Linked DNA regions of Homo sapiens: all the other regions are reported to be linked to region 1. Evidence: microRNA targets listed by miRTarBase, many of them from high-throughput screens and not tested one by one. Region 1 holds a microRNA gene; each other region holds the end of a gene's coding sequence.
What was found. The annotated mature microRNA hsa-miR-8087 reads GAAGACUUCUUGGAUUACAGGGG and lies in region 1 at 2,530-2,552, opposite strand. An mRNA with a match to its seed (bases 2 to 7 or 8) in the 3' UTR can be bound and repressed. Matches are read on the target gene's strand: a 7mer-m8 pairs with bases 2 to 8, a 7mer-A1 pairs with bases 2 to 7 and ends in A, and an 8mer does both.

Region 1 (8,011 bases):
CTGAGCCAGCTGCAGTGACATCCACCTGTATGTAGTCCCAGTTCTTGGAAGACTGAGGCAGGAGGATGGAGGCCGGGAGTTTGAGGCTGTATGATTGCGCCTGTAAATAGCCACTTTTCTTCAGCCTGAGCATCACAGCAACACCCCAAATCTTTAAAAAAAATCTGTCAGCACATTAAAAATTACTTTACTCTATGTCAATAAAGTAATTAATATAAATACAGATTCCCTTGAACTTCATGGACTTATCAAATCAGAATCCTTAGGAGAAGGCTCTGGGAATCTATATTTTAAAAAATCCCTAGTGATTCTGACACAGCTAGCCTGACACAGGGACCTGTGTTCAGGATTTAAAAGATTATTTCTAGGGCCTTTTTCTACTAAAATTCAGTTTCCCTATAAAACTGCAGAGAAAAATTATTGAGAAAATGATTTTCATTATAAAAGAATATGTAGCTCTTGCATAAAGGGCAGCATTTCTAGCTAATTTTAAAATTTATTTTATATTATTTTAGGCATAGATAAGGAAGAAAAAAGTTTTGGAAACTACTTCTGAGAGGGAAAAATATGCCTGAAATTAACCAACAGCCAGCTTGTACTTAACATACAAAATAAACAAAAGAATCAACTATTGTGTAAGGAGAGAACCCCGAAATGTTCCTCGTTAATCGAAATTCAAGAGTATTAGCGTCGGGAAAGATCTAGAGAGTCAACTCCCTCATATTAAAGAAGAGAAGATGGATTGCTGTCCTACATTCAAAGGAGGCCATTAGGAGCATGAACCAAGGGAAGCTGGTTTTCCTTCTATGCCTCTGCCAGGTTATTAAATCACCAGGCCTCCTAATCAAGAATTGCTCTTCGTGTGGAAGAACTCCTCTTCACCTGTTGCTTCCTCATATTATTTCCTGCCTCAGAGATGTAGAGGAACTGTAAAATTAGAATAGGATGTTTGGGTCTAGACAAATCCCAGTGAAAGCTAAATTATGGAAATTTAGTCTTTGTATAACAAATGAAAACCCTAAGTAGGCTGCCAAGGTACAAAAGCTTTCTTAACCCGAGACATTGCAAATACAACGTACTAAGTGAAAAAAGGAGTGGGTGGGGAACAGTGGGAGTAGAAGGCTGTCTAAAGGGAAGCTAGGAAAATGGAAAGTAATATGGAGAAGCAACATGCTCCAAGTGGAGTGTTTTACTATTTCATTGCCTGTTGAACTGTACACAAATAGGCACTACTACATAAAATAGCTATTTGAAACAGTTATGCCATTGCAGGGTAGAACATTACTCTCAAGTAAAGGCTTCTAACTGTACAATTAAAGTCTCAATCTTCTTTTTTTAACAGAATTTCTCTGATGTACTCAGCAAAGTAAAATTTTGAATAGATTATTTTATTTGAAGTGAATGATATTGTCAAATGTTAAAGAGTCTGCATTTTAAAATAATTTAAACAATATATAAAAACACTTGGCCTAATTAAGTAATCATAACAGTATGGAAAAATCTCTTCAAGAGCACCTTTGAAGGGAAATTTTATCACAGATCTCAGATCAGAACATAGAAACCCATCTGTGAGTTCCAGAGATCTAACATAAACCCTACTTTTCCTTGTAGGATGAGTTGCAGATTCTATTAAAGTGTAAGGGTTGACTTTTTTAATGTCACTTGTTTCATCATCACTCTGTAGTACATGTAAAGGCACAGATTGATGTATTTTTCTGGCATCTTCCTGACGCACCCTTGCCCTATATAAATCGGTTTGCCAGGATCTTGTTGCTTAAATTAGCGATTGCAAACTCTTGGTCCTGCCAACACAGCCGATTGTGCCAAGGTTCTCAGCATCTACTGGCACATGAACTGTTGCCTTTTCTTTGGCTTTCTGCATGTACCTGGGGCCATCATCCTTCCTTCACAAAGCAGCAGTCTGGCTTAGTTGTCCCTGAGAAAGACTTCAGGATTGGTTGGACTCAACTCTGGCCCTCTTCAGGTTGTGCATCCTGCACAATGTATTTTCAGCCACACAATGTATTGTTCAGGATTTGTCGTGCACATACTTGCAGATTGGCAGAGCCAACTGCCAGAGATGAGAACCTTTTAAGTTGTTGTCAAACGTCATAAAATGTGTTCCGTGATTAATTTTGTGGGCACAGATTGGTTTTTGCACAGAGTCCAAAATTTAGGATATGTCACAGTGACTAAATGGCACCGGCATGCTGAATGAATTTGGAATTTGTTTTGTCAAGTGTGGGAGCAGGCACACAGATGGGCTTTGATCCAGTGGTGCTGCTTGGAATTCTCATTATAGCAATGATGTCACTTGTCACGTGGAGTAAGTGATAATGCTGCCAAATTGTGGAAAAAGCAAGGCAAATAGGAAAGTACACAGACCAAGAGAAAGGACTTAGGTAGCACAGTAAGCTTTCACTATCAGATGAATGGACATAAACATTGCTTTTGGGCTGCCAAAAATATGCATAGTAAAAATACAGGCAGAAAGGAAAACTTCCAACTGAAAGGGCCCTTAAAGTAGGGCCCCTGTAATCCAAGAAGTCTTCACTTCTTAGAGAAAATCAAGTAAAGCAAACATGTCCTTGATTTTTATATTAGGCTATGAAAGAAATTTCTGAGCTGCAATCAAGAGTCTTTCTGCAATATCTAACCAAACCAAAGCCAAAGTATTTTGCTTTATAAAAAAAACCTTTGTCTATGAAGAAGATCAGCAGTCATGCTGGGAAATTGAAAAAAACAAAAACCTTATAGTGGCAAAGAAGTACAGTATACTCTCACCAAGCATGCACATCAGAATTCTCTGTAGGGCTTTAAAAATATATTCTTGATGCAGCTACAGCAGTGCTTAGAGGGAAATTTATAGCTATAAGTGCCTATATTAAAAAAAAGAAAAATATCAAATTAACAACCTAAACTTCTATCTTAAGACACTTAAAGCAAAACAAACTAAACTCAAACTAAGTAGCAGAAAGGAAACAACAAAAGTTAGGGCAGAACTAGAATAAAATAACGATACAGAATAGGAAAACATAGAATATAAATAAAAACAATTGAGAAAGATGATGAAACCAAAATCTGGTTCCTTGAAAAGATCAACAAAATTGACAATGCTTTAACTAGACTGACCAGGAAAAAAAGAGGAATTACTAAAATCAGGAATGAAACGGGACATTTCTACTAACCTTACAAGAATAAAAAAGAATATTAGGAAATACTATAAAAATCTCTCTCTCTTGCCACACACGCAGTATATACTATATATAACTGAATGTATGTCATGTAACTTATCTAATTTGTTGAAAAATATATTTGTCACACAATTCACGTCAGAGGGTCACCATGTAAATTTTGATTCAAAAACTCGAGTATGGCATGAACATTTGTATTTTCTGAAAATATAAAGGTTTTTGTGAGTGACATGTACTTTTTGTTGAGAACCATTGATCTACCACATGGAAGGCATAAAAATTGTGGAATTACAATTAAATATGCATCAATTAGAATTAGGTATAGCTGCATATAAACACAAAAATCCAGGCTGGGCATGTTGGCTCATGCCTATAATCCCAACTTTGGCATGATCTCAGCTCACTGCAACCTCCGCCTCCCGGGTTCAAGCAATTCTCCTGCCTCAGCCTCCCCATTAGCTGGCATTACAGGCGCCTGCCACGACGCTCAGCTAATTTTTTGTGTTTTTAGTAGAGATTGGATTTCATCATGTTGACCAGGCTGGTCTCGAACTCCTGACCTCAAGTGACCCACCCACCTTGACCTTCCAGAGTGCTGGGATTACAGGTGTGAGCCACCGCGCCCAGCTATTCCCAGTATTCTGGGAGGCTAAGGCAGGAGGATCACTTGAGGCCAGGAGTTTGAGATCAGCTTGGGCAACATAGCAAGACCCTGTCTCTACAAAAATAAAAAATAAAAAAAATTAGCTAGTCATAATAGTGTGTGCTTGTAGTCCTAACTACTTAGGAGGCTGGGGCGGGAAGATTGCTCAGGCCCAGAAGTTCAAGGTTGTAGTGTACCACTACACTCCAGCTTCGGTGGCAGAGCAAGACCCTGTTTTGGAAAACAAACAAAAAACTATTTTGAAAAAAAAAAAAAAACTCACAAAAGTCCAAAATAATAGTGCATTTAAAGTGAATGAAAGAAATCCATAGATAGGTAACTTGGTGCAAGTATGACAGCCCCATGGTATCACCAGGATCCCAGCTTTTTTCATTTTGCATCACCATCCTAGGACATGGCTTCCATAGTCAAGTTCACTCATAATCTGAGATGGCTGCAGGAATTTCAGTCATTACATGTGAGTTGCATGCCAGAAAAAAAGAATAAGGAATTGCAGAAGGGTAAAAATCACCCTTTCCAGTTGAATAAGCATCTTTAAAGCACCCTTTTCAGATGTCCAACATAATATTTTGACCTATATCTTCTTAGCCAGACTCAGTTACATGTCTCCATCTTACTGCAAAAGAACTAGGAAGTAAAATCTTTTATTTTGAGTGACAAAGAGCCCAGCTACAAAATCTCAACTCTGTCCCCAAGGAAGAAAGGTAAAATAAATATGGGGATAAGCCTTCAGCAAGCTTTGCCATACTACACCACAACTTCTGGAAATTACCTTTAAACCTAGTTCCTGCAGCATTCCCGGTCAATAGATTTATTTCCCTTCATTGGAAAGTTTTCAACTTAACTCAAAAACGTTTACTAGCAGGTGCTACAGGAGAGAGGAGAAATGTCAGATGTGTTCATGTCCTTGAGGAACTTTCAGGCAATTTCAGCAAACGGAAACTACACCAATGAGACAGTAGGAATGTTATCTACCTGTATGTACTGCAATGCTATGTTTTATGGTTTGGACCACTACTTTATATTTTAAACCTAAAAACCCATTGTCTGCAAACTGACTCAAACTAAATTGAAATAAGCCACATTACTGTTTTAACCCAAACTGATTCTGAAAGCTAGTATTTACTCAACTACAAACCATTCAGTAGTGTGAAGATTAAACAAACAAGCAAACAAAAAAACCCTCTCCAGATCCTCCAGATCCATGTTTCCCCTTCCTTCCTTTCCTGTCTGTCTCTCTCTTTCTTTCTTTCTTTCTTTCCTTCTTTCTTTCTTTCTTTCTTTTCTTTCTTTCCTTCCTTCCTTCCTTTCTTTCTTTCTTTTTCTCTTTCCTTCTTTCATTCTCTTTCTTTCCTTCTTCCTTCCTTCTTTCCTTCTCTTTCTTTCCTTCTTCCTTCCTTCCTTCTTTCCTTCTCTTTCTTTCCTTCTTCCTTCCTTCCTTCTTTCCTTCTTTCTTTCTTCCTTTCTTCCTTTCTCGCCCAGGCTGAAGTGCAGTGGTCCAATCTTGGCTCACTGCAACCTCTGCCTTGATTCTCCTGCCTCAGCCTCCCGAGTAGCTAGGATTACAGGCACCTGTGACCATGCCAGGGTAATTTATTTTTTATTTTTAGTAGAGACGGGATATCACCTTGTTGGCTAGGCTGGTCTCAAGCTCCTGATCTCAAGTGATTTGCCTGCCTCAGCCTCCCAAAATGCTAGGATTACAGGCATGAACCACCATTCCCTGTTCTTAGTGTTTCTTATAACTTCCCAGATATGAACAAAACCTTGCAAAAGAGCATTTCAATAATCTTTAGCTTCTCGATCTTCCAACTGATGTGGCCATCAAATGGCTAGTCAGAAGACAAATAGATGAAGACAATAGCTTTATTAAAGTCAATTCAAATTATGACCTACTATGGTAAGACACTGTGCTGGGGTCTAGAGGCACCAGGACTTCACCCTTCTCTCAACAGCTCACAAACCCAGTGGAAAGGGTCAGACATATAAGCAACCAACAGAAACAAAGGAGATGGCATTAAATATTATTCTGCTCTTGTTGCTTTAGTTGTTGCTGCTTATTGTTGGTCTTGTTGTTGCTTTAGTTATAGGGGTTTTTAACAGAGTTGCAAAGTGTTGTGGAGTAATGAGTGGGGAGAAATGATTTCTCACTGGAGGTAACCAGAAAACAGATTAGAGAGCAGTGATTCTCAACCAGGGGCAATTTTCAAACCCATAGGACATTTGGCAATATTTGGAGATATTTTTAATGGTTATGACAATGGATAGATGGATAGTCAGGGTGAGGGTTGGTACTGGCACGTAGTGAGTAGAGGTCAGAGATGCTGCTAAGCATTTTTCAATGCATAAGACAACTCCCTACAACAAAGACTTACTCAGCATAAAATGTCAGTAGTACCTAGGTTGAGAAACCCTGCTTGAATAAGATGGATACGTTGTACAAGAAGGATCAGAATTTTCACAAGTGGATGAATGGGGACAAGAATCCCAGAGAGAGTACTAAATGAGCAAAGCCCCATTGGAAAAAAAATATAGGCCCTGTTCAGGAAGTAGGAGGGAGGGCTTCAGTGGGGTATAGGTTACACAACGGAACCTGAGGAAGCTGTAAAAGGAAAGGGGGCTTAGCATTTAGATTGAGGCTGAGTGCAAGCTGCTAAAGTTTGGATTTTATTCTTTTGGCCAGAGTGAGCTATTGAAGGATTTAAAAAATGGAAGCAATAGGATTAAAAGTGTGTTTTAGAAATAAAATCAGAGGGAAAAGCTTTGATTCTCATAGCAGATTGTAAGAAAATTCCTTTAAGGGAGTCACCCTTATTTTGGGTGTTGTCTGATGTTTATTAACCTCTGGTTGTTGGAAAATAGCAAAACTGCAGAGAAGGGAGAAATTCTGCATATTTGGGCCTGGGTTGGATGGGCAGTGAGGGGTGAGGAAGGCCAAGGGAATGAGAGAGTGGTGCAATGCTGATGTTTGTGCTGTGAGACCCTTCTTCATGGCTTCCAGAGCTTTGGTAATCTTTACAAAAATTATAATATGCTTGTGCTTGGATTTCTTGTGCAAAATGACTATATTTGGGTTGATTGTGAAGATTGGGAGAGGAGGTTGGTGACAATGGTGCAATGGTAGCATAGAAGTAATAATTTGGATGCTTCTATAATGGGCAGTTTCTTCTCCTACTTCTTCCTTTCAGATCCTGTAGTCCTGTCCCACAGAACTGCTCATGCTTCTCCAGTACGCCAGTCTGCATCATACTTACATGCTCTTCTTTCTGCTTGGCACGCTTTCCTTTTCTAACAAACTTCTGCTCATCCTTCAAGACCCACTTCAAATGTTCCATTCTCTGCTCTGCCCTGTATACAAAATATCAATATTGTATTGTGTTTGCTAAAGTGTTTATTTTCCCCAACCAGAGAGTGAGCCCCTTCACGGCTAAGAATGGCATTGTAATCATCACTGACTCTCCAGCAGGTAGCAAAGCATATTACCGAAGCTCCTTGATCATTTGCTGAATGAACCATGGGTAATAAAATCAGTGAGTGGCAGAAAGATTGTGGCTCTGGGCCTACATAGCCTTTGCCTGGTTGCTGTTAGAACTACATTTTCTTCTCTTTATTAATTTTATATTTTAAACTTCATCCCCAAGCTTAAACATTTCCTTCCAATAGATGATATTCTATCAGGAAGAGAAAAAAAAAAAAACCCAAAGTACAACTTTAATCCTTGAGTGAATGGGCTAAAATCAGGTTTCAATATGCTTTTTAGAATACTTCCATGTAATTAATTTAACATTGACCTGCTTATTAAGAGTCCATTATTAAGGAAACAATTGTAAAAGTCATTAAGGGCATTTCCACAGATCTTAGCTACTGACTCATCTTGCTAGTTCTCAATAAACGTGACCTGAAAATCTCTCATTCGCAGTATCAGGTAAAATGTTATTTTTCTAACCATTAGGAAACATTTACTCTTGGGCTGATTTTTATGTGTTTTTATTGTTGTTGTTAATGTGAAGAAAGTCCTATACAGGAACAGCTGCGCATATGGGTAAATGCCTGGGAATGGTTTAAAGATGCCTTTTCAAAACATCTTCCCCACACTGGTATTATGCAATGCCTCTGTCTCAACAATTAATAAGTATTTCCTTTTGAGTTAAAC
Region 2 (7,937 bases), not on the chromosome of region 1:
AACCTATCTTCATTAACATGCAGATGATTGTCTGTGATGGTGACTTAGGATTATAGATCTTCTTCAGTAGTTTGCAAGTATCATTCAATGCCTTATGATTCCTCTAAACTAATTGATACAGCCTTAAATTATGTTTCCTTTCTTATGTTTGTTTTTCTAGAAACTTTTCTCGCCCAACTGGTATGGGTCAGAGAGAGGTACCTTAGATGCCCAAAGACCACCTTTCAGTTTTGGAAACTGTTAAATAAAGCTGAATTTTTTCTGTTGCTTTCTTTTTTCTTTTTTCTTTTTTCTTTTTCTTTTTCTTCTTCCCCTCCCCGTCCCCACTCCCTTCCTTCTCTTTTCTTTTCTTTTCTTTCATTTTTTGTTTTTTGAGATGGAGTGTCACTCTGTCGCTCAGGCTGGATTGCCCAGGCACAATCTTGGCTCTCTGCAACCTCTGTCTCCCGGGCAATTCTCATGCCTCAGCCTCCCAAGTAACTGGGATTACAGGCATGCACCACCACACCTGGCTAATTTTTGTATTTTTGGTAGAGACAGGGTGTCACCTTGTTGGCCAGGCTGGTCTTGAACTCCTGACCTCAGGTAATCAGCCCGCCTCGGCCTCCCTAAGTGCTGGGATTATAGGTGTGAGCCACTGTGCCTGGCCTTTGCTGCTTTATTGATAATAATGTTCCATTTACTGAGTCCCTGCTATATGCCAGGTGTGATACCACCTTCGTTACTTAAGCCTTGTTTAATAGATGAGGAAATGTGGTTAGTTAACATTACCTAAAGTCACACAGCTAAAATGTGGTAGAGCTGCAATTTGAGTCCACTTGTTTCCAACTAGGAAGCTCAGGCCTTTGATAATGTCACAGTGTTTGATAAGCATGTAATAATAGGTATTTGTTCATCAGGTGACGCATAGTATTGCTTTCCTACTTTACTGTCTGGAAAGCAGCACGTATGTTCCACCAAAATGAAAGGCATTTACTCATTTTTCTATTTTTGGAAGATGTAGTCGTTACAGCCCAATTTGTCTTTTAACTTAAATTGTAGCAGTCATACTTGCTAATTACAGGATGTTCATCCATATTGATCCACTTTCTCCAAACAGGAACCGCAGATTGGAGGAGAAGGAATGAGGGGAGCTGGGCTCTCATGTGAACAGTTGAAACAGCTGCAGCGATTTGATCCATCGGCTGTGCCATTACCGGACACTGACATGGACTCTCTTAGAGAGGCCAGAAGAGAAGACATGTTGCGTCTGGCTAATAAGGACTCTATAGGTTTTTTTATTGCAAAATTTGTAAAATGCAAAAGCACATAGGAGAGGGATGGATGCTCAGAAATGAAAATTCCAAACATTTGCTGTCTGTGGTTTTTTTTTTTTTAACCAAAGTGTTGTCAGGCCAACTGAATGATGATGTGGTTGCTATGGAAACAGAAAAGGCTGCCAGCTGTTTTACCAGGGATCCAGAGACATAGAGGAAGTAGGGGGTGGTATGAGATTATATTTTCTGTTTTTAAAAGATTTTTTTTTTTTATGTATTTAGTAGAGTATAAAGAAAAGCAGATGCCTATAGATGTCTGGAGCATATTTTCATTTGTGATCTAATGTTTTAATTTGTAAAGTGTACAAGTCATTTTTAATGTTAAAAATTAGTGAATCTAACAAAAGGAATAAATTAGCAATATTTGATGTGGTTATGAAAAGTTGTTTTTGTTTCTAGGTTCCTAGTTTCTTAAGGATTCAGGGCATGGGAAGTAAAACATTGACTATGTGCCAATAATGGAGGTAAGTATTTTACCTGACTCTCTGTCTGCTTATTTAGTAAGTCAACCCCCTTTCAAATGAAGTCTGGACCTCCTCTGAATGATAGTGTGAAGTGATAGTCTAAAGACTATCGTAGTCTAAATGGTAGTCTATGTTCAATGTTTTTCATAATTTTAAACGAAAAAGTAAAGTTAGTATTTTCTTTACTTTGTAGATTTAGAAAATGAGATTATTCTACAATTTGGATAACTTATCATGTATTTGAAACATATCAGTTATTAGAAAATGCTTGGTGAGAAAGAAAAAACCAGCTCTGGCAGCTGGGAAGTGGCCTGACCTGACCCTTATAGCTGGGCCTTGGTGTTCTCCTGTTGAACGTAAGCAGTTTCACCTATCCCCAACATCAGACAAGGCAGCCGTACCTATCATAGATCCAGACAAAAAAAGACCACAATCAAGTCTGAATTCAGACAAAAAGCAGATCATCCTTCGAATTGCAAAAATCAAGCATCCCACTGTAGTGGCCAAAATAAGTGACTGCTTTTCAATTTAATTTTACTTTTTAAAGACAAGGTCTTGCTCTGCCACCCAGGCTGGAGTGCAGTGGCATGATTTCATAGCTCACTACAACCTCAAACTCCTGGGCTAAAGCAATCTTCCTGCCTCAGTCTCCCATGTAGCTAGGACAACACAGTTGTGTGCAACCATGCTTGGCTAATTTTTTTTTTTTTTTTTTTTTAAAGAGATGGGATCTTGCTTTGTTACCCAAGCTGGTCTTGAACTCCTGGCCTGAAGCAGTCCCGCTGCCTTGGCCTTCTAAAGCACTGGGATTACATATGTTAGCCATTGCACCCAGCCAGCTTTTAAAAAAAACATTACAGCCTTAGGATTTTGCCTTCCTATTGGCTTTTTAGATCAATCAGAATACTTACTTCCCAGCCATAGTTTTAAGGCTGTCTCATGGTGTTAAATCCATCATACTGTTTTGTTAACTTTCATTCAAATCACCCAAAAGTTATTAGGCCTTGGGCTTAAGAAATGGACAATTGGTTAATAGTTTGATTTCCGCCCGCCCCCCCGCCCCGCCCTCCACAGGTTTTCTTTAGGAATTTCTCATAACTATTTATTGTATCCATAAGGATTGCAAGGTCTCTTGGATCAGGTAAGACCTTTAGATTGCCTCTTCTTTAAAGGAGGCTTTCTTGAATACCTTTCCCTGAGGTTGGATAGGCACTGCTCCCCTTCTCTGTGCCCCTGGCTCCCACATCTAATGTTCTCCTGGCACTTACGACACTCTCATTCAAATTTTCTAGCCATGCACCTTAAGCCCCAGCCCCACACCTGGGAAACATCCTCCAGGCAGAGACCCTGTCCTGCCGTTTCTCTGTCACAGCTTCAGAGCAAACAGTCAATAGATGATTATTGTTTGAGAGAAAAATTATTTCAAGCAAACATGTGTCTCTCTTACATCCCTCATTCTGCCTTATATCCAGTAGCTGTCATTTGACTAAAGAGAAACACTTTTCCTGTGGGACTTATCTTTTTAGGGCTCAGCATACCTCTTTAAACTTTAAATGTCTTTTAAGAAACTCTACAAAAATCATTTTCTGTAATGCTTGCTGCACATCCTTATTTGCTAAGCTGGGATGAAAATGGCAGAGAATCAGCCTAGCAACAAACTTTTACTGGTGTAAATGTTTGATTAATACCAACAAATATCAAAATACAACCAATGCCAGTAAATAGAAGAAAAGTATTTACATATTGGAAACAGGACAAAGAATACTATTCAGAATTTTTCCTTGAACAGAGCTAATTTTCAGTGGGTTTCTTCCTTTCAAAAACTTAAGCAAACTGGAAAATCACATAAACTTATGGGACATAGCAGTATAAGAAAAAAATGCAATAAGGTGAAAAAATCAGGGAAATGTGAGGGAAAATTAATATATATTTTAACATTTAATATTAACATTTCTATGAAACAGAAGAAGTACTTAAGTTCAACAGTGAGTACATTTACTTTAAAACCCTGTGTCATGTTTTAAATAATGAAGCAAAGTACAAATAGTTAAAAGTACAGCGCAGCAGAAATTAAACTCTTGATCCAGAACTCATAACTGACCCAGATTATTCTGCTAGAGCTCACGTTGAATAAAATATTTTATCTACGTGGAGGTATCTTTTTTTTTAATCAGACATAATAGGAAGATTACTAAAGGAACATAAAGTATTTAGCATTGCCCCAAGAAAGATGCCCTGCAGCTGGGAAGTGTTGAATATTTAATATAGTCTCAACTACATGAATCATTTCTAACATGGCAATTAATACTACTACTAATAAACAGTGCAGAAGCCAGCTCTTTATTTGTTTTATATGAATTACTTTAAACCAGGTTTGTTAGACAGTTCAGTGTAGCTGACAGTGAATGTTTAACAGGAATGCATAGCAGACCATGTTAAAAATGTGGCATTGTCCCAAAGTACAACATGACTAAGACATCCTACATTTAGCAGCACCTTTTTGTAACAGTAACTTAAATGAGCAGTAGAGAAAGAGCATAGGAAAGACTGAAATGGATATGACCAAAAAAAAAAAAAAAAAAAACTATTAAATACATTTCCAGCATTTTCTAGGTTGACTACAAAAATGGCTCTACAACTGAGTAGGTTAAGGTTAAGCCTTTGTTGTGTGAAAAGACTGTAACTTTACATTCCGCAGGTCAGTAAATATCCCATTGCCCTTGAGATTATTTCCTCATTTACAGATTTACTACACAGTTTACACATATGTCCACTATACAGTTTTTCACATATAGCGGCTCTTATGTCAAATCCTTCAAGCTAGTTCTTTGAGGAATATTCTGATTTGCACTAATATGTTCTACAGTAAAGTGCAAGCTAAGAATCTAGATACAAAATAAAAAAGATGGAAACTCTCACCACTACTTTTTGAAAGGGATTAATGATAGCAGCAAGTAAGATAAATACTAGCTATGTTTCAAGAATTTAAATATTCTAAAATCATTAATTGGGATGAAATAATAAAGGATTGAACTAATAATTGTGAATCTCTTACCATGACAAAAGTTTTATCAGAAATATTTTATAAATTCAATTTTAATTAGAATATGGTTTCCTACCAATGTAAGAATTGTCAAGTTTATTATGACTACTGATTTTATACTCAGTAAATAAATTTATGTAAACAGTGTAGGGCTAATTAACGAACTGAGGGAAATTTTTTCATATATAAGCTGATAAAACATTATATATGTAACTAATTTTTATTTTCTTTTTTTAAACACCAGGTTGTCACCAGGCTGGAGTGCATTGGTACAGTCACGGTTCACTGCAGCCTCCACCTCCTGGGCTCAAGGGATCCTCCTATCTCAGCCTCCCAAGTAGCTGGGTCTACAGGTATACTCTACCACCCCAGCTTAATCATTTTTAATATTGCGTTTTCTTGGGGGTAAGGGAAATAAGGAGTTAAATGTAAAACAGTTTTACTTATAAAAGGCTAAGAATATTTGGTAAGAACTTGGAATAATCAAGGAAGCAAAACAAAGTAGATTTTATAATTTTGCTGGATAGTTTTTTTTGTTTTTTGTTTTTTTTTCTTTTTTGGAGATGGAGTCTCACTCTGTCACCCAGGCTGGAGTACAGTGGTGTGATCTTGGCTTACTGCAGGCTCCACCTCCTGGGTTCAAGCAATTCTCCTGCCTCAGCCTCCCAAGTAGCTGGGATTACAGGTGTGCACCACCACACCTGGCTAATTTTTTATCTTTTTAGTAGAGACGGGGTTTCGCCACGTTGGCCAGGCTGGTCTTGAACTCCTGACCTCAGGTGATCCACCCTCCTCAGCCTCCCAAATTGCTGGGATTACAGGCATGAGCCACTGCGCCCGGCTGATTTATTTTGTTAAATAAGTTAATGTGCAGATCTGAAGTTAGGTAATTATACACAGGCATTTTCCTGGGACAAACTTCAAGTGCCAGGTACTTGCACTCTTAATACTGTCTTACCATCCAGTTATAACTGGACAAAATATACACTTGAGACACGGAAAAGGTCTTAGCCTTAAACATGATGACATTGTAAGCTTCTTACAGCAGTGTAATTGAGGCATGGAGATAATGTCTTCAAGGTTCCCCTTCTGTGTACATGTCTTATGTAGGATAATATTCTTAACATTTTATTCACTTCAAGTCACCCCATTTTGCCCTGATTTCTTCTGAAGAACAGAAACTTTGGTTATAAGAAGCACTTCTGGGTTCTGACAGACAGTGAACCTGCTGGAGTCGGTGGTGGGGAGGAATGGTAGGTAACTGGGAGGTAAACAAACAACAGGAACAATAGGCAAGGTTAGAAATTGAAGTGGGAGAAGTTATAAAAATTTATTTTCCCACGAAATAATTCCACAAGCTGTGTAAACATTTCTTACTAAAACAAATACTCTAACACACAAAGATTGTACATTTCCAGTGAAACACTCACAGTAAAATTGCCTGTATTTTCACTCTCTAGGAGCAAAAACAAGGAGGCAGCAGATGAATGCTTTCCTAGTTACCTTTGGCAGCAAGCTTACTCACATTCCCTGACTGCTCAATGGGTTGTTAAAGCAACATATAGCACAATTAATTAAATACAGAGCGAGGTGGGCAGAATGCTCGATATCAGTCTCTAGTTTCTTCGTTAGTCTTCAGCATTCCAATTCATCTCAACCATTCAGTCACTCGGTGCACACTTTCTTACATACGGACACACACACGTGCATATAGCGAGTTCCGGCTCGTAGACTCCAGTGCAGTGACTAGAACAGACACTAGCTACTAAGAATGTGTCACAATCAGTGTGAACTGTATGGAGTAGAACAACCTCTGGAGTTTTATATTTACCATAATTTATGGTGGAAATTACAAACTTACTTACAAGGATGGTATAACATTCAGAATTCAAACCTTTTCAAGTCAAGCAATCACACATATTTACAGTATGTACACACTTTCTACTAGAATGAGGATAGGTGTCTAGACAATGTTATTACAAATTTCCTGAATGTGGGCATTTCTAGTCCCTGTAATTCATAAAGCAAATCTGCTGACTTGGCATTAAGACTCTAAAATAGTGTGATCAAACTGATATATATATATATTATATATATAATAAGAAGGTGTTTGTTTGCAGAAATAACATTTACAAACTGTCTATACAGTACACAGTACTAGTACATAGAAAATAGATTCTAACTTTATGATCCCCTTTGTGTAAGGCAAGACTGAATCTGTCCCCAAATTTAGTCAGCCAGAGGTACAAGCAAGAAACAGTGGTCCATGAATGAATATGCAAATCAGATGCCTGCGTATTAACGTATTAAAAATCTGGAGAAACAAGAAATTCCACTTTTTATCTGTGCTGATTCTGGCTTGTTGGATACATCAACTACATTTCTTAAAACACTAACATCACCTGGGTGGCAACAGATTTTGTTCAAGTGGCAGCTACCCAAAACAGTTTTTGAAGAGTCCAGTATGCAACCGGAGGACTGCAGCCATACCAGGCCAATTTATGTAGCACTTACAAAAGAAAAAGTATCTCAATACTCTATCCATGCTATTGCTATTCAAGCAACAGCAATAATACAAAATATTACAAGACAGATCACATATGATTGCAGTGTAGACCCCAAAGACTTTGTTTTGGGGATGCTGTTAGTTATACAAGACTTCAAAAAAAAAAAAAAAAAAACACAAACGGGCAAAACTCATTGGCGGATGTAAACATCCCTGTTCCACTCCCCAGCCTCATTCCGTTTTTTTGATATCACTTCTCCATCCTTTTCACAGTAGCGATCCTTGGATTTATGACGGCTGCGCTGCTTGTTGCACTCGTTGTGGTCCTGCTCTCGATCCACGTCCCGGGAACGGTGCCGGGACTCCCTGTGTCTGTGGTCACTGCTCCCGTGGGTCTCGTCTCTGTGGTTGTGGTCACGGTGTGAGGCATAGTGGTCCACGTGGTCATGGGAATAATCTTCCTTTGGCTCTACGTAGGCAGAGTCTCGACTCTCCTGGGTTTCCGAGTCAAATGTCTCTTGCCTGGAGAGGCCGCGACTTGTCCCACTGCGATGGTTGTGGTGTGGGGCTGAGGAGGAAGAGCGGTGCTGGGATTTCTTGACTGGTTC
Region 3 (8,011 bases), not on the chromosome of region 1:
TGCCCTCAAAACACACAATTATGAAAGTATCAGAACTGGGATTTTAAGAGTCTAGATTCATAAGTTACTACTCCTTCCATTACAAAACAACACCTGTCTCTGTGGTGAAGTATAATTTTTTAAAGTCAATTGTTTTGAAATAGCAAAATAATAACAATAATAAAGGAAATGCACTCAATTTCTTAAGCATGTTTCATCCCCCACTGGATATATATCCTCAGCCTAAGCTCATTACTTATGAATGTGTTCACTTTCAGTCACTTCAAGCCACAGAAAAAGTTTAGAAAACAGATAATCAGTAAAAAGTGGTAGTTGTGAGAACTCCCAGCTGACAGTGAGCCCATATTAATGTCTACACACTTGTATATGCTCCACACTGATTCATTTGGGGCAAGAATAATAAGATTGATGAATTAACTCATAAAAACATCTACCAGCAGGCTGGGCATGGTGGCTCACGCCTGTAATCCCAGCACTTTGGGAGGCCGAGGCGGGCGGGTCACAAGATCAGGAGATGAGACCATCCTGGCTAACACGGTGAAACTCTTGTCTCTACTAAAAATACAAAAAATTAGCCGGGCATGGTGGCGGACGCCTGTAGTCCCAGCTACTTGGGAGGCTGAGGCATGAGAATGGCGTGAACCGGGAGGCGGAGCTTGCAGTGAGCCAAAATGGCGCCACTGCACTCCAGCCTGGGCGACAGAGCAAGACTCCGTCTCAAAAACAAAAACAAAAACAAACACAAACAAATATCAGCTTCTTTTCACTGATGGGAATAACAAGACAATCTGTGGTTTATAAACTGCGTGATTTTGTACCTTGTATTTTTCACAAATCCTAATAGTTTTACCTTCTGTTTTGAGCTTTGAAATTGAAATGAAAACCAGAGAACTTCCGAAAGTTCCTTAACATTCTACATCTAGTTTATATTTTCTGCCACTATTTTATTTTACGATTCTTTATAAAGTGCTGACAATACTTACATAATTAAGCTCTGTTTAAGTAAAATTATTAAAAACTTTTCATGAATTCTTATGCTCTCCAAAGTACAAATTTTATAAATTACAGTAACAATTGTTAACTAGGTGATATACTTTCCTCAGACAGAATTCCACATCTTGAAAGACTGAACTTACAACACAAAAAAATCTTCTCTAGGATTTCCACCTTCCAGCCTAGGATCATCTGATGTTATCTGTCACATGAAGCACTGCTCTTTGCACTTCACACACATAGATACACAATTCCAAAACCCTCAGATGAGTTTTTGAAGTCAGAATTTTGGATTTTAGAAGATAATGCAATACAGATAGACTATTAATAGTTCCCCTTTATCCATGGTTTTGCTTTCCACAATTTCAGTGACCCACAGTCAACTGCTGTCCAAAAATAACTGTTCACATAAGTTTTATTGCGGTATATTGTATATTCTATTATTAATATCTTACTGTGCCTAATTTATAAACTTTATCATAAGTATACATGTATAAAAAATGTACATACAGCATTCAGTACTGGGGGTCTTGGAATGTATCTGCCACAGTTAAGGGGCAACTGCTGTATTTTGTAACAATTTCAGCAGGATCAGTGCTAGCATTCTATAATTAAACATTTAATATTTCTGCTGCAAAATGTGACTATTCATATTATAAATTCAGGTCACGTTTTATATCACTTGTCATACAGATGCACATGCACACACACACACACACACAAAACATTAGTATTTTGAGCCTTCTGGATTAAGATACCTGTGGAGTTACATGAATTCATTCAACTAAGACCATGAGGCATGAGGGGGATCCTATTATCTCCTTTACATAGACACAAAAACTGAGGCACAGAGACATTAAGCACCTATATCCATTGTCACACAGCTAGTAAGCAATGTAGCCAGGATGATCCCAAACAGGATGGCTTCAGAGTCCATGCATTTAACCACTATGCAATACTGTCTTTTCATGTACTTAACAAAAGCTCTAAATATATATTAATAGTATGCGCAATTGTTTATTATTTAGATCTTCTGTGGCTGCATTATAGGGTACAGTTTTTTAAAAAACCCTATATAGGTATTAAGGACCATTTTCCTAACTCCTTCTAAAGAAACTGAAAATTACCTTTAGGTAAATAGCAGTGTTTCTGAAACATCTTTTTGTATAACTGAATCCTTTAATCATAGGAAAAAATAAAGTCAATGATATAGGTAGAAGTCTCAATGTAAAAATAAAACTAAAAATCCAAATGTGAAGGCATACCAAATATTTAAGACTCCAGACAAGCCAAAATTCAAATATATATATATATACAAAATGCTAACATAAGTTAGGAAAAAGGAAATAACCTGAAATATTCAAATTTTATTGGAGAAATCAGTGATACACAAATCCTAACATGTCTGTAGGAATAAAACCTTGAAACAATCTCAGCATTTGTACAACGGAACTGGTATGAGAGCTCCCAAGTTAAAGGAAAAAAAGAATTTCATTGGCATCATGTACCAGTCTTCTTACACATGCAACAGTTGTTAAAAGTACACTGTTTCTCTGTAATGATCTAGATTTGAGAAAAACAGCACCCTCTCAAAAATCAGACTACTTCTTTGCATTACTTCCAGTATGAGGCAAAAGATTTGGATTCCTAATAAGCTTTCCTACTTAAGAAAGTGAGGATCTCTAGGAATTTATCTTCCCAGCTCCTATATAAGAATTAGTTCTTGGCTGGGCACAGTGGCTCACGCCTATAATCCCAGCATTTTGGGAGGCCAAGGTGGGCGGATCATGAGGTCAGGAGTTCAAGACCAGCCTGACCAACATGGTGAAACCTCGTCTCTACTAAAAATACAAAAATTAGCTGGGCATGGCGGCCCATGCCTGTAATCCCAGCTACTCAGGAGGCTGAGGCAGAAGAATTACTTGAACCTGGGAGGTGGAGGTTGCAGTGAGCCAAGATTGCACCACTGCATTCCTTCCCTGAACGACAGAGTGAGACTGTCTCAAAAAAAAAAAAAAAAAGAATTAGTTCTTTAACTTGAATATTCTCTGCTTCATTTCCAGTCAGCTGATTTGGTAATAAAAATCATTCATTCCACATCTAGCTTATTAACCTGATGAGAGGATTGCAGTTGTCAGAAGTATGGGTAATGGAGTCTGATAGGCCTGGGTTCAAATCCCAGCTATTGCAATTACTTACTAGTAGAGTGACCTGGGCAAAGAACTTTACTTTGGCCCCATCATCTTTCTGATTTGCAATAATGGGATGCTATTGAAGGGCGATTAAAAATGAGATAATGCCACCCAATCCATAAGAAATGCTAGTACACAGTAACTACCACTATTTGCAGTAATGAGTCAGCATTCATTGTATATGATTTTAGCTGATTTGGAGGAGCAACTTTACTAAGGTAGGAAGTGAGGCTAAGAGTTAAATTAATCTCAGAAACCAATCACAAGGATGGCTCCAAATAGTAACATTTGTAGGTAAATCAATATTTTCCCCACAAGTTCCCAAAATAAAATCTCTTGGTGTGTGTAAAATGATCTTACGATTTAAAAAATGCACAGATGGAGAAAGGGAAACCACATCAAAAGAGATGAACCCTTTTATTTAAAACTACATATGACCCTTCCCTGCACAGAAACCAGTATTTTGTCCTTTTAGCTTTTATCATCTAATTCCTCTAGGCAGAAATAACTTAAATCCATACTGTCATATGGTTACAGTAGCAGGTATGAGCAAAAGATGTACTTCTTTAGAGCTAGTTACAAAGGGTAAGTGGCTCTAGTAACTAACAAAAACACACACCACCTAGAAACCGTCTACCTTTTTTTGGAAATGTCAGTAAAGCTACAAGTTCAGAGAGATGCACACCAATCTGAACAGGAAAGATTCCAAGGGAATTTAAGTGCATTAGGCTGATTAGATGGTAAACTAATATGCAATTTTGCTCTGGGTCAGTGATATATCTCAGATATCAATAATCTAATCTGATATGTAGATAACTGAGGAAGGAATAGAGAAAGGTAAAGTGGGAAAGAAGAGCCAAAAAATATTTAAGTACTGAACTAAATTAAAATTTCTATCTAAATTATTCATAATAGCATTGTGATGTATCTCCATTTTAAATATTTACTTGAAGTTCATAACTGGGCATGGTGGCTCACTCCTGTAATCCCAGCACTTTGGGTAGGCTGAGGCAGGTAGATAACTTGAGCCCAGAAGTTCAAGACCAGCCTGGGCACATGGTGAAACCCGGTTCTACAAAAAAAATACAAAAATTAGCCAGTCGTGGTGATGCATGCCTGTGGTCCCAGCTACTTGGGAGGCTGAGATGGGAGAATCATTTGAGCCTGAAAGATTAAGGCTACAGTGAGCCAAGAATGAAAATGTGGGCCAGGCACAGTGACTCACACCTGTAATCCCAGCACTTTGGGAAGCCGAGGAAAGAGGATTACTTGAGCCTAGGAGTTGGAGGCTACAGTGAGCCATGATCGCACCACTGCACTCCAGCCTAGGTGATAGAAGAAGACCGTGTCTCTAAACAAATTTTTAAAAAAGGAATAAAAATGTTTTTAAAAACTAGAGTTATTAATGCAAGCCATCCTCTTTCTCCATTCCATTTCACTCCCTATAGACAGAAAACAGATTGGCCAGTAAGTGCCAGTGCTAAAGGCTGAGCTTGTTAGTTGGCAGTCAACTCTGAATGGGTATTAAGACATAAGACAGGAAATTATCAAAATTGACCTTGATGTTTCAAACTTGTGGTATAGATATCTAAAGAGATTACTAGATAGCAGAGTTCAAAAAGCAGATTATTCTATTCAAGATTCTTTGAAGACAGTGGGAGAATTCTGGATTCATCAAGGTGCAAATTATTATGGAAATCAGAAGAGATGAAGTCTACAAGACCAAGAAAAACATGTATTCCAGGACTAACCTTAAAAGGGAAAGGAAACATTTAAGAGGAAAAATACATACATTCTGAAGAAACAAAAGGCTACTAATACTAACAGCACTGAGAACCAAAATTTGAGAAATGAAAATTGGAGTCTAGAAACAAAGAGGGAACAATTAATAGCTACATTGAGATAGCAGAGGATAAGGATAGAGTTAAGAGGCTCTTAATCAGAAAGAAGTTTTTTGTTTTAACTTTCTGGAGGCTTACAAGCTTCCATTATCTAGAATGATTAAACAAAGCAGTACTTTAGAGTGGGATTCTTAGGCAGCAATCTAGCCTACTTTTCAAAATTCCCTTGACCTATAATGAATCTAATGTATTTGACAAGGTATGTTTTATAATGCTTTCAGTCATGTGTTTTACAAACTCCCTTCAGACCAGCAAAATCCCAAATCCCACAACACTTAGCAAATCTAGCCAATGGGTAAGCATATTCTAGATAATATATCCTTTAAAACCAACTAAAGATAGTACCAGATTTTTTTTTTTTAAACAGCTATTTATTTTTTTTGAGATGGAGTCGCCCAGGCTGGAGTGCAGTGGCATGATCTTGGCTCACTGCACCCCCTGCCTCCCGGTTCAAGCAATTCTCCCTGCCTGAGCCTCCCAAGTAGCTGGGACTACAGGTGCATGCCACTACACCCAGCTAATTTTTGCATTTTTAGTAGACACAGGGTTTCACCATGTTGGCCAGGCTGGTCTTGAACTCCTGACCTCAGGTGATCTGCCCACCTCCGCCTCCCAAAATGCTGGGATTACAAGCATGAGCTACTGCACCTGGTCAGAAACAGCTATTTTAATAGTGTCATCTTTAAGAAAGAAAAAGTTAAGCGGCAAAAATATGCTTCTGTATTTAGAACCATGGACCTTTAATTATAACTCTAAGACTCTATGGATTATTTACAAAGGAACTAAGAAAGGCCTAAACCTGCTGAAGATTATGAAGGTAGTCAATGACAGAAGACTTGCTAGAGCTAAGCATTCTTGTCTCTGGTATAGTGCTATACGTCCTCAACTATGCCTCTGCAGCAATAGCCTTCCTCTTCATCTTAGGATTAATGGTACTGAGAAAATTTAACATACAGAATACAAAAGTCACTATCCTATTTTCCTAAGAAGAAAACTTTAGAAATCCATCCAACCAAAACTTAATTTTGCCTTTTCCTTCAGTGTTCAAGAAGAAAAAAATGTATCTAGTAGCTCTAAGTGGACAGAAGGACAAGTGAAAACTCTAGAATGCTTAAACAAGCTATAACAACAGGTTTGGGCACCATCTGGTATCACCTTACTGAAACTTTCCTTAGTAACTCCCCTACACCCCACAACAAAGGACGAGAAGGAAGGAGCTGAATTCCTACTGTTTTGGAGGCTGAAATGATGACCCGTTTGCCTCCCACTCCCCCTGCTCTGAGGGTATAGAGTAGTGCTTTGCCATAAAAATGTTAGTGACACCTAACAGAGCTGAGACCAACATCTGGGGTATTACAGTTGAGAAAATCATGGTGAGAAAACAAAGTCAGATCTACAGGTCATCCATAGTCTATACTTTATAACAGCCTAGACTGTAAACAATTTTAATCACAGAACATTTTCCTGTCTCTAAAGTGTATTTATACCGAGTTCAGCATTCAATCTTTCCACAGTTCCTTCATGAATGTTATTTTTTTTCCCTGCTACATTTATAAGCTCTTTGAAGTTAATAATCATGTCTTTAATTTTTTGTATTCTCATGATATCTATATATTCTAGGCACAGAGTAAATACTAAACATATACACATTAATTTACTCTCACAGCAGTTACCATAAACCAATGAAACCAAAGTAATCATGGGGACGTGACAACAGAGATTTTCTAATAAAGAAAAAAAATACCAAAAAACCCACCAATGCTGTAATTTCAAGAATCCTGTCGTGATAAAAGAAGCAAGTGGAGTTGGGCTTTCCTAGAACCTTCTTTGCCCTACCTTCACAGATTATCCTTAGTATAAACTTGCAGTGTGTTAAAACTCAGGTATCTATGTTTTATACAGAAACTTGCAAGGTAACGACCAAAATATCTCAGTGCAATTAAATTTACAAATTCTTCCCATTAAAAGAACTACATGGGAATTCCCTGTGATAATTTCTCAAAGTTCTCATTAAAAACTTAAGAAAAAGGTAAATAAACCAAACATCTTCATAGAAAAATTGTATTTACAACTCCATTCAAAAGCAGTTTTTAAAAGCAAACACAATGTAACACTGAAGGTGAAAAATCTAAGCTCACCCAAAGCTGCCAGGTCTAATAAATTACTGACAGAATACTGTATCAAAAATAAGGCAATAACCGAAAATATACCATTAAAGATTTCTCCATCCCCACAACTAGATAGAATGAATCTATCTAGGAGCAAATGACATGCTTTATTCAGTTTCACCATGTCTGAAACCTTTAAGGACAGAAGTGATAAAATGTTATCTTCATTCTTCATTAGACTTGAACACTTGAAGGAAAATAATTTCTAAAGCACAAAGAGGTAAAGAAGTATAATCTTTCAAAAAGATATTCAGTGTTCAAAATTCAAGAATGCAATATCAATACACAATGGGCATTAGGTGAATATACACAATACGATGAGAGCAAATTAATTTATTTAGTACTTTTTCCATTCCATATCATCAGGAGGATTGATTTCAACTTTCCTTTTACCTACATCAGACCAGTTGGTACTCAAAACTGTACCACCCGACTCCATCTGCAATGAAAAATAAAAATAGATTAATTCCTGGACCATATAATCAAAATAGAATATTTTTCTTAAAATGTTCCAAGCATAGAGCCCCAAATATTGGCTATTATATACAGCTCAATATAAACTCTATGCAATACATATATAATAGATTATACAGATAAAATATATAGCTCAATATAAACTCAAAACAATATTTTTATTTAAACTTAGGCATTCCAGAGGTTAACAAGTTCCATAAAATCTGAAAAGGAAATCCTAAAGTAGTCAGGGAGGTGCACTACATCCTTTGCTAATGAGCATAGATGTGCATGTGGAAAAACT
Region 4 (8,011 bases), not on the chromosome of region 1:
TGACTGTTTCTTGCTTCCTGCCCTCTGACTTTTAGAGGTGGGTAGCCCTGGGGTCCTCCCAGGTCTGGACATCATCATCCCAGCTAGAGGCATGGAGCCCCCCAATCACAGAGGAAGAGACAGTGGTATAAGAGGCTCCTTATGTCGGGTGTGGTGGCTCACGCCTGCAATCCCAGCACTTTGGGAGGCTGAGGCAGGACAATCACTTGAGGTCAGGAGTTTGAGACCAACATGGCCAACATGGTGAAAGCTCATCTCTACTAAAATTAAAAAAAATAATAATAATTAGCCGGGCCTGGTGGTGCATGCCTGTAATCCCAGCTACTCAGGAGGCTGAGACACGAGAATCACTTGAGCCCGGGAGATGAAGGTTGCAGTGAGCTGAGATTGCACCACTGCACTGCAGCCTGGGACACAGAGTGACACTCTCTCAAAACAAAACAAAACAGACAAACAAAAAAGACTCCTTAGATTCAAACTGGATTCCGGCCTCGGTTCCACTGGTCATAATTCAACTACTTTGCATCTCTAAGTCTCTGTTTCTTTAACTTCAAAAGGAAGTTAGCCTTTTCCTTGCAGAGGTGCTGAGGATTAAATGAGATAATACGTGGAAACATTAGGCATGTAGCACACTTAGCAGATGGTGGTTGGCTCCGCCTGCTTTTCCACCAGTCTGTGGCCTACAGTTTAAATGCTGGGAAAAAGGGCGTGAGATTTGATGCTAGGGAAGGAGGCATGGGGTTCTAGGCAAGGGAGACAGTCTCTTAGGCCTGGAGCAAGGGGCCAGGGGCCTGGGCAGGCCACAGAGCCCCACAGTGTCCTCGCTACCCTATTAATGGGCCAGGAATCTGGAAGCCAGCCACCACATGTCCTCATGCCCAGGGTCTTCCGGCAGGTGGAGCTGAAGAGCCAAGAGGCTCCGAGTCTGCAGCAGCAGCCAGACCAGTAGCTGGAGCCCCAGTCCCACAAGGAGCTTGGATGTGCGGACAAGCAGGGTGGTGAGTAGAGCCCTCAGGCGGGGTGGGCAGGCAGGAGCAGGGGAGGCTCGCACTGTGCCCAGATTCCCACCCCCCTCCCTCTCTCTGAAGATCTTAGTGGGCTGAGCCTCACTGATAGCATGGAGGCTGCACCGGGAGAGGACAGGGAGGGTTCTCCCCCATGACAACCCCACTGCACAGCAGATCCAGCAGCTGCTTCCTCTAATGCAGGACTCCCCAGGAGCACCCAGGCTTGAGTGGAGAAGCTGTTGGTACAGGAGAGGCGGCAGGAGGAGCAGGAGAGGCTGCATGCCATTCTTTTCGGGCTGCGGAGAACAGGGAGCTAAACATCACCATCATCTAAGAGCGGGTCAAGGAATTGAAAAAAAAAAACAAAACATTTAAGGGGTTAATATCCTACACAATTCATTTACTTCATTTGAATGTTAGAGCCACTTATGTTTATTTGTGTTTCTAATTTATAGTTTAAATTTATTTGTGTTTCTAATTTATAGTTTAAATTTATTTGTGTTTCTAATTTATAGTTTAAATTTATTTGTGTTTCTAATTTATAATTTAAATTTATTTGTAAAAAGTTAAATGAGAGTGGGTGTTTCTCTCATGTTCACTCTGGCATCTTTTAGCATTTTTTTAATTTGATAATTATAGGACGTTAGCATGCATATCGAGTTTGCCCTTATGTGGTGGGAGTTCAAACACACAAAGACCCACTGTATGCACACAACTGTTCTTGCTGGTTTGGGATAGGCTGCCATGCTTTTTGAATGTTAGTACAGCCTGTATATTCATTACGGAATTCAGATAAAATTTCCTTATGTTCTGCTGTTATGTTTGATCGAATCCTAATCACAGTGAGCTCTTCATTAGCTCAATATGCAGTTTGCCCTCAAGTGCGCGGTCTATTACTTTGTAATATGCCACTGTGAGTACTGACATTTACAGTTGTTTAAAGGTGGAGCACTGGAAACAGCCTTTCCCCCTTTTTCTGTGTATTGGGGATGGGAGTAATAACATTTTGGGGAGGTTTTTAAATCTCCCAGAAGAGGAAAGTGGCCTGCTTTGGCAGGTGTGTGCAGGATAGAATATGTTTCATTTGTTCCGGTGCCAAGAATGAGCGCTGTACTACGGTAGTTCCCTTAGGATTTGTATGTGCTCTGGGCTCATGAAGATACTGCCTCATGAGCTGTGGCAGTTGTACTCTTTTTTGATGACCTGAAAAGGGATTATTTCTGAGGAATGAAAGGCTCCCATCATGACTGTGGATGTGGAAAACCTTTTCTAGCTGAGAGCATTTATATCTACAATACATTTTAAAGTCAGCGTTCATGTTCCCTGTTTTAATCACATGACTACATGTCCCAGTACACAAAAGGGCACTGGTTGGCGTTCTCCTTAATGTATTTAGTAAAGATCAGAAGAAATCCTTTAAGAGTTTAAATGCCCCTGGAACAGGCATATACAGGCTCTAGTCAAGAATGAATTCGAGTGAAGGAAAGCTGTGTGACACCTGGCATTCCTCTGTGTTCATGGAGCTTATTTGAGGCTAGAAGATGGATTTTACCATCTAGACCTCTCTGGCTAATAGCTAGTCTTCAACCATCTGACATAGGAATTTACTTCTTTTCCTTGAATGGAGAACACTTTAAAAATAATAACAAACATTATTATAAACTAATATATGTGAGAGTACTTAGTTGAAACAAAAAGGAGTTTTAGTAGACAGTATTATACTACATTTGAAAATCAAGGAGCAGTTTATGCAACGTAAAATGTTTACAAACTGCAGCGCAATCTACTGTTTGTGACTGTCAAAGTGTCATGAGGAAAGTGTCTATACAATCACAGAGTTATATTTCCTCACAAAGTTCTTTACGAAGAGTGAAATATGTTTTTATACCTCTCAGTTTCAGTTAGAGGCATATTTTGTGTAATATTTATGGCTTAAAATGGACTAAAGGTCCTGTTCTTGCCTTGTCTGAACTTGCCGCTTTTGCATTCTTTGAGTTCAGTTTAAAGACACTTACTTTAACTCCATTTTAAACCCTCGGGCTAGAAATCGTACCACTGTTAATTAGCCACGTTATTTGGTCTAACAGTTTTTGTTTATCATTCTGAAACTGAGCTTATCTAATACATTGATAAATTATTTCAAAGGTATTTTTATAGTTCAAATCGCTTCACTTTTACCCTGACACGTATAAATGAATAGGAATGACCTTCAGATAGCGTTTAGCAACTGTAACCAATCTGACAATAATGTGTTCATCAGGTACCTGTGGATTAAATCACATACTGGCATATTTAAGATGAATGTCAGTCTGAAAAATAAATATACTATATTAATTCAAATACGACTCTTTGTGTAGGTATTTTGTCATATGTTTAAGAAAAAGCTAAAGAGAATGGAAATCCTATGACAATAACTCAAGTCTTTCTTCAAAGTGCATGCAGTCTTTTGCAGTACCTCATTCAGCCAAGTATTTGTTCTCTACCTCATTCAGTATAAGGCAGCCTTTAATTTGCTTAGAAGGCAACATTAGAAGGTTAGAGTTCAGCAGGAACATAGAATTTTAAAATGTGACTTCAACTGAATAAATTTGAATTTCTCTAGGGAGTAAAGAATCAAAACACCTATTTAAAGACTGCAAAATATGATAATTATTTTTAAAGTAATTGATTAAACCTGGTAGGTTTTCCCAAAATGAAAAACAATCAGTTCTAAAACCAAAGCTGATTTTTAGAAAATGTGAAAATGTAAATCAACCCTATCCATAATAGATTCTCTAAAACTTTATCTTACAGTCACTTTCAAATAACTATTCAAAAATGTAACTGCTATATTAACGTCTTAAAATAATTTAAAACATTTTAAAATATGAATACTGTAGTTTAAAACAAAGAATCTAGGGGAAGGAAAAGTAGACAAAGAAATGCCAATTCCAGTCCAAAGCTGTATTTGCCAAGTTTTCTTAGAATGACTTTTACCGATTTATGAATTCTTATACACAGAATGCATAATGGAAATACTGATTTTTGTCTAAAGTGGCATTATTGACTGCTTCTGTGATGCTACTGTAATGTAATACATTATTAAATTGTTTCAAGGTGCTGTTTTGCCTAAAAATTTTGTGTGTCTTGAAAACTATAGTATTGGGTATTGAGACTCTGCAAATTCTCGGCATGCTTGGCATGAGGTAATCGGTTTTTATTCTTACAAAATTGTAACTATGTAAGTGTGTTTATTAAAAGAACACAAACTAAAAAAGTTAACAGAAATTAAAGTTGTGGGATGAAAAAGTTACAGGATAAAAAAATACTGTGGAAAAGTGGCAAAAAAAAGTTGTGGAAAAAAAGTAAAAAAAAAGTTTTATGAAAAGTTATTTTAAAAAGTTATGAAAAATTAGTTACAGGATTTAAAAAAAGTCATGGGATAAAAATAAAAATAAATAAAAGCAGGCCCCTGTCAGCATAAGCCTGGAGAAGTGGGTCTGGAGTCTTCACCCCCACCATGTCCCTACAACCCCTCCCCAGTCAGCCCTTTACCATTAGGGTAGCAAGACAAGACCCTTGTCTAATGGAGGGAGACAAACAGACCCTTTACCACCTTGACCAAGGCTGAGTCCTTACATTTCTGGATGATGATGTTTGTTATTTAAGAGCCAGAGGTTGGTGGAGTTGGTTTGTTTGGAGGAGGTCTGACGGCCTTCTTACTCTCACCAAAGCAACTTTTCCCTCAGGGGGGCTCCCATCTTCTTACTCAGAGAGGCAGCTGAGGCGGGACAGTGGAGTTAACTGTAGACCAGGCCAGGGCACAGGCTGCTGGGGGTGGCCCCCCTTCCCCCGTGTACATACTGTAGCTGTGTAACATTCTGTATCGTACCTAGCGGAGGTTGCAGCTGGCATATGAGGAAGAGGTTCTTATAATTATTCGCGGCTGGGAAACTTATTTATTGCTAGCATAGGAGCGAGGAAGGAGGCGGGGATGGGGTCATGGCTCCCTGGTGATGGGACTCCTGTTTTTGGTTTGTTGTTGTTTTGCTTTTGATTTTGGAATAAATGGATTTAGCCATACTGCTCGGCCTGTTATGTTCCCGTTTCCCTCACTGGGTCCTGCAGTTTGTCCCACTCAACGAGGAGCCCCAGAGTGTTTCAGCATGTCCAGCTGGGCTGTGGGGAATCTTCCAGGCCTGTTACCTGTATGCTGCCTGGTGACACCTGGTGGATTTCACGGGGACTGCCATGGCACCTACGGAGTACAGTCCGGCCCTGACAGTCAACAGGTTGAGAAGCCTGATCTAGCTGTGGCAGGGAAGACAGATACCAGTGCCCAAGGGCACTGACTTCCATCCACCCCAGGTGTCTTCCGTTCCATCCCCCTCCTCCCGTTCCTGTCTGCACCAGGTGGCCTGTCTGTCCCTCCAGAGTGCCGGCTGCCCCACAGGCTCCTTCCAGGCTGAGTTCAGGGCCCTGTCCCCTAGTGGCCAGAGCCGGCTTCACAGGATAAGAGCCAGCTGAGCTCCAGGGACTTTCCAGGAAAAGTGTCCCTTGAAAAGGGTGTGACCTTTTCACTGTTCCCAACAACACCCTAAAAATGGCTTGGCCTTTTCCATCCCCTGAGCTCCATAGAGAACACAGCCAGCAGAGGACACATTCTCTGTCATCCAGAAATGGGTTTCTCAGCCGAGGGACAGCAGGACTGGTAGAGACTGTCAGGCCACACAGCTGCCTGCACAGCACCGCCATGCTTGGCCAGAAGGGCGGGAGGGATGGCGGGGGCTGGCTCTCCACAGGCCGCGCATGTCCCGGAAGCTCACTGGAGGTGGTGCACTTTGGAGGGGCGATGTCAGGAGACAGCTTCCTCTTGCTGGGCTACAAGACTCCACAAGCACAGCACGGGGACTGATTCCCAGTGCTAGAGGTGAGGCAGTTGGCCACGTGTATATATGTATATATGTGTGTGTGTGTGTGTGTGTGTGTGTGTTTGTGTATGTGTGTGTGAGAATTTATAGCTATAGAACAGGGCAGGGGCATACCACAGAGGAGGCACAAGTTTTCAGCAACGGTCACACCTGGACGTGTCAGCTCACCACTACAACAGACTAAGTCACAGATGAAGGGGGCTGGCTTTGGGGCTGGGGGAGCCACTGTCAAGTCACAGGACACCCGCCCAGGCAGGCTTGGAAAGGGAGGTCTCTGGGAAGAGGGATCTGTTTAGACGTCGAAGTGGGGCCTGGGGCTCCCTGGATGGGATGGACTTGCCTGACCCGATCAGCTGGCAGTTGGAGAGAAAGCAGAGAGAAAACGGGTTAGAGAAAAGCCAGAGCTGGTGAGGCAAGTGCAGAGTATGGGTGCGCTGCAGCAGCTGTGGAGGGCCGGGGAGGGGAGGGCGTACGTGTGGGCGTGGCAAGGTTCCTGGAAAAGAGGGGCTGGAAGGAAAAGGGGAGGGAGATGGAGGGAGAAGCTGGAGCTTCATAGGTAGTGCCTGGGGACTGCGGCGGCCCTCCCTACCCCACACACGCTGGCCTGTCTCATGGAACCCAGGCAATCCACCCATCCACCCACAGTTCAGACCAATGCCAGCTCCCTCGGGCTTCCCTCTTCTGTGGTCCCCATGTCTTCCAACCCACTGGCCCAGGGCCACCTCTTGCTTGGAGAGCCCCATCCAACAGCCACCAGGCCTGATAGAGAAGGAACACTGCCTGAACCAAAATGGTGGAGCTATAAGGGATGGCTGGCTGGAGTGGTCGCCAGAGGCCCCTCTGGGCCATCAGAAAACCCAGGGTCCTCTGAGGGACCCTAGGGAAGGCAGGGAGGGCAGGTAGCCAGATGGCACTGGCCATAGACATATAAGTCTAAGAGGGGAGCCTCAACTGGTTGGCGGGGGGCTGCAGGTTGCATAGGTGAGGCTGGGCCTTTCCTGCTGGGAAAAGCAGAAGAGGAAGGCTAACTTTTGTGTTGTTTAGTAGAGAGTGGGTTTCACCATGGTGGCCAGGCTGGTCTCAAACTCCTGACCTCAAATGACCCATCTCTGCCTCCCAAAGTTCTGGGATTACAGGCCTGAGCCACCGCGCCCGGATCCAAGGCCCTTAAGCTTAAATGCCTCGTTCTTCAGTCAGGTTTTCCTTGTTCCCGCATGTTCAGCCAATCGTGTTTAAGGAGAAACTAACAATGAAAACGGACTCGTTGATGGAGGAAAAGTTGGAATGCAGCCTCTGGTGCTGTTTGAGCGATCCCTCTACCCCGGGTCGCTGCTGTGTTCTGGAAAGGCGCATTGTACCCTGGATGCGGCAGGTAAGAGTCCTGTCCAGGTGCTCTGCCCGCTTTTCCTTTCAGGCTTCTGTATCATCTATTTTTCCCCTGTAGAATGTGCCCCTGACAGCCACCCCCTAACCCTACCCAATTTGTCTTTACGTGTCTGACCATCAAGGCTCTTCTGGGTCATATTTAATTCATGCTGATATTTCCCCTTCCTCCCCTCTTTAGTCCTCACTATTTTTGCTTTGGTCATGTTATGCCTTATTCTATAAGGCTTTAAAAAATTTTTTTATGGTGGCAGGGGAGAATATAATTATGCTTTGTGCTTTTTATCTTCCACTCAATAAATGCTTGGTAAATATTTGTTTTATTGAACGTATGAGCCTATTCTAGCTATATTGTGCTTGAACAAAAATCTTAACTGCCTTGTAAGTTAACTGCTAAGAATTTGTCAGAAGTGCAGACATAACATCAAGAACTTGTCATGGATAGTACAAAAAGGTCTCTAAGGGCTTGATGGAGGCCTGTAAATTGACTTCCTATGAAAGAGAGTGTAAGAAGTGAAAATGTAAAGCATGACTGGAGAGCCAGAGTGATGAAGCCAGGGTCCCTTTCTCCAGATCCTTTGTAACAGTGTTATGTGATCTCTTCTAGAAGATCGTTCTGAAAGATAATGCCAACTCGGAACCTAGGAAACCACCTAGTGGGTTTCTGCAGCTTAGGTGTTTCAAATCCTCATCAGCACGTTTGTTTTCTCT

Region 2: miRTarBase lists CACNB2 as a target of hsa-miR-8087. Seed matches in the 3' UTR shown: 7mer-m8 at 7,478-7,484, 7mer-m8 at 7,445-7,451 and 7mer-A1 at 6,869-6,875.
Region 3: the mRNA of SUGT1 is a reported target of hsa-miR-8087. Seed matches in the 3' UTR shown: 7mer-m8 at 5,918-5,924, 7mer-A1 at 5,840-5,846 and 7mer-A1 at 2,267-2,273.
Region 4: the mRNA of GOLGA6L4 is a reported target of hsa-miR-8087. Seed matches in the 3' UTR shown: 7mer-m8 at 3,425-3,431.

Annotation. Positions count from the first base shown.
Region 1 is chr11:27,512,486-27,520,496 of GRCh38, forward strand. MIR8087 (microRNA 8087) reads right to left here and starts at 2,562; the gene lies at 2,485-2,562. The region is part of intron 1 of BDNF-AS (BDNF antisense RNA); the gene reads left to right.
Region 2 is chr10:18,539,308-18,547,244 of GRCh38, reverse strand. It overlaps CACNB2 (calcium voltage-gated channel auxiliary subunit beta 2), which reads right to left. Exons shown (of 14, transcript NM_201596.3): 14 at 3,688-7,937. The coding sequence ends at 7,521. NSUN6 (NOP2/Sun RNA methyltransferase 6) reads left to right here. Exons shown (of 11, transcript NM_182543.5): 11 at 1,100-1,684. The coding sequence ends at 1,312. Among named protein-coding and RNA genes, the nearest start is that of CACNB2-AS1, 4.0 kb to the right of the region's middle.
Region 3 is chr13:52,687,416-52,695,426 of GRCh38, reverse strand. It overlaps SUGT1 (SGT1 assembly cochaperone of MIS12 kinetochore complex), which reads right to left. Exons shown (of 13, transcript NM_006704.5): 13 at 1-7,693. The coding sequence ends at 7,592. Among named protein-coding and RNA genes, the nearest start is that of SUGT1, 39 kb to the right of the region's middle.
Region 4 is chr15:84,241,252-84,249,262 of GRCh38, forward strand. GOLGA6L4 (golgin A6 family like 4) reads left to right here. Exons shown (of 9, transcript NM_001267536.3): 8 at 896-998; 9 at 1,209-4,107. The coding sequence ends at 1,341. It also overlaps the pseudogene UBE2Q2P8. Among named protein-coding and RNA genes, the nearest start is that of GOLGA6L4, 9.5 kb to the left of the region's middle. RefSeq lists an enhancer at 5,222-5,361.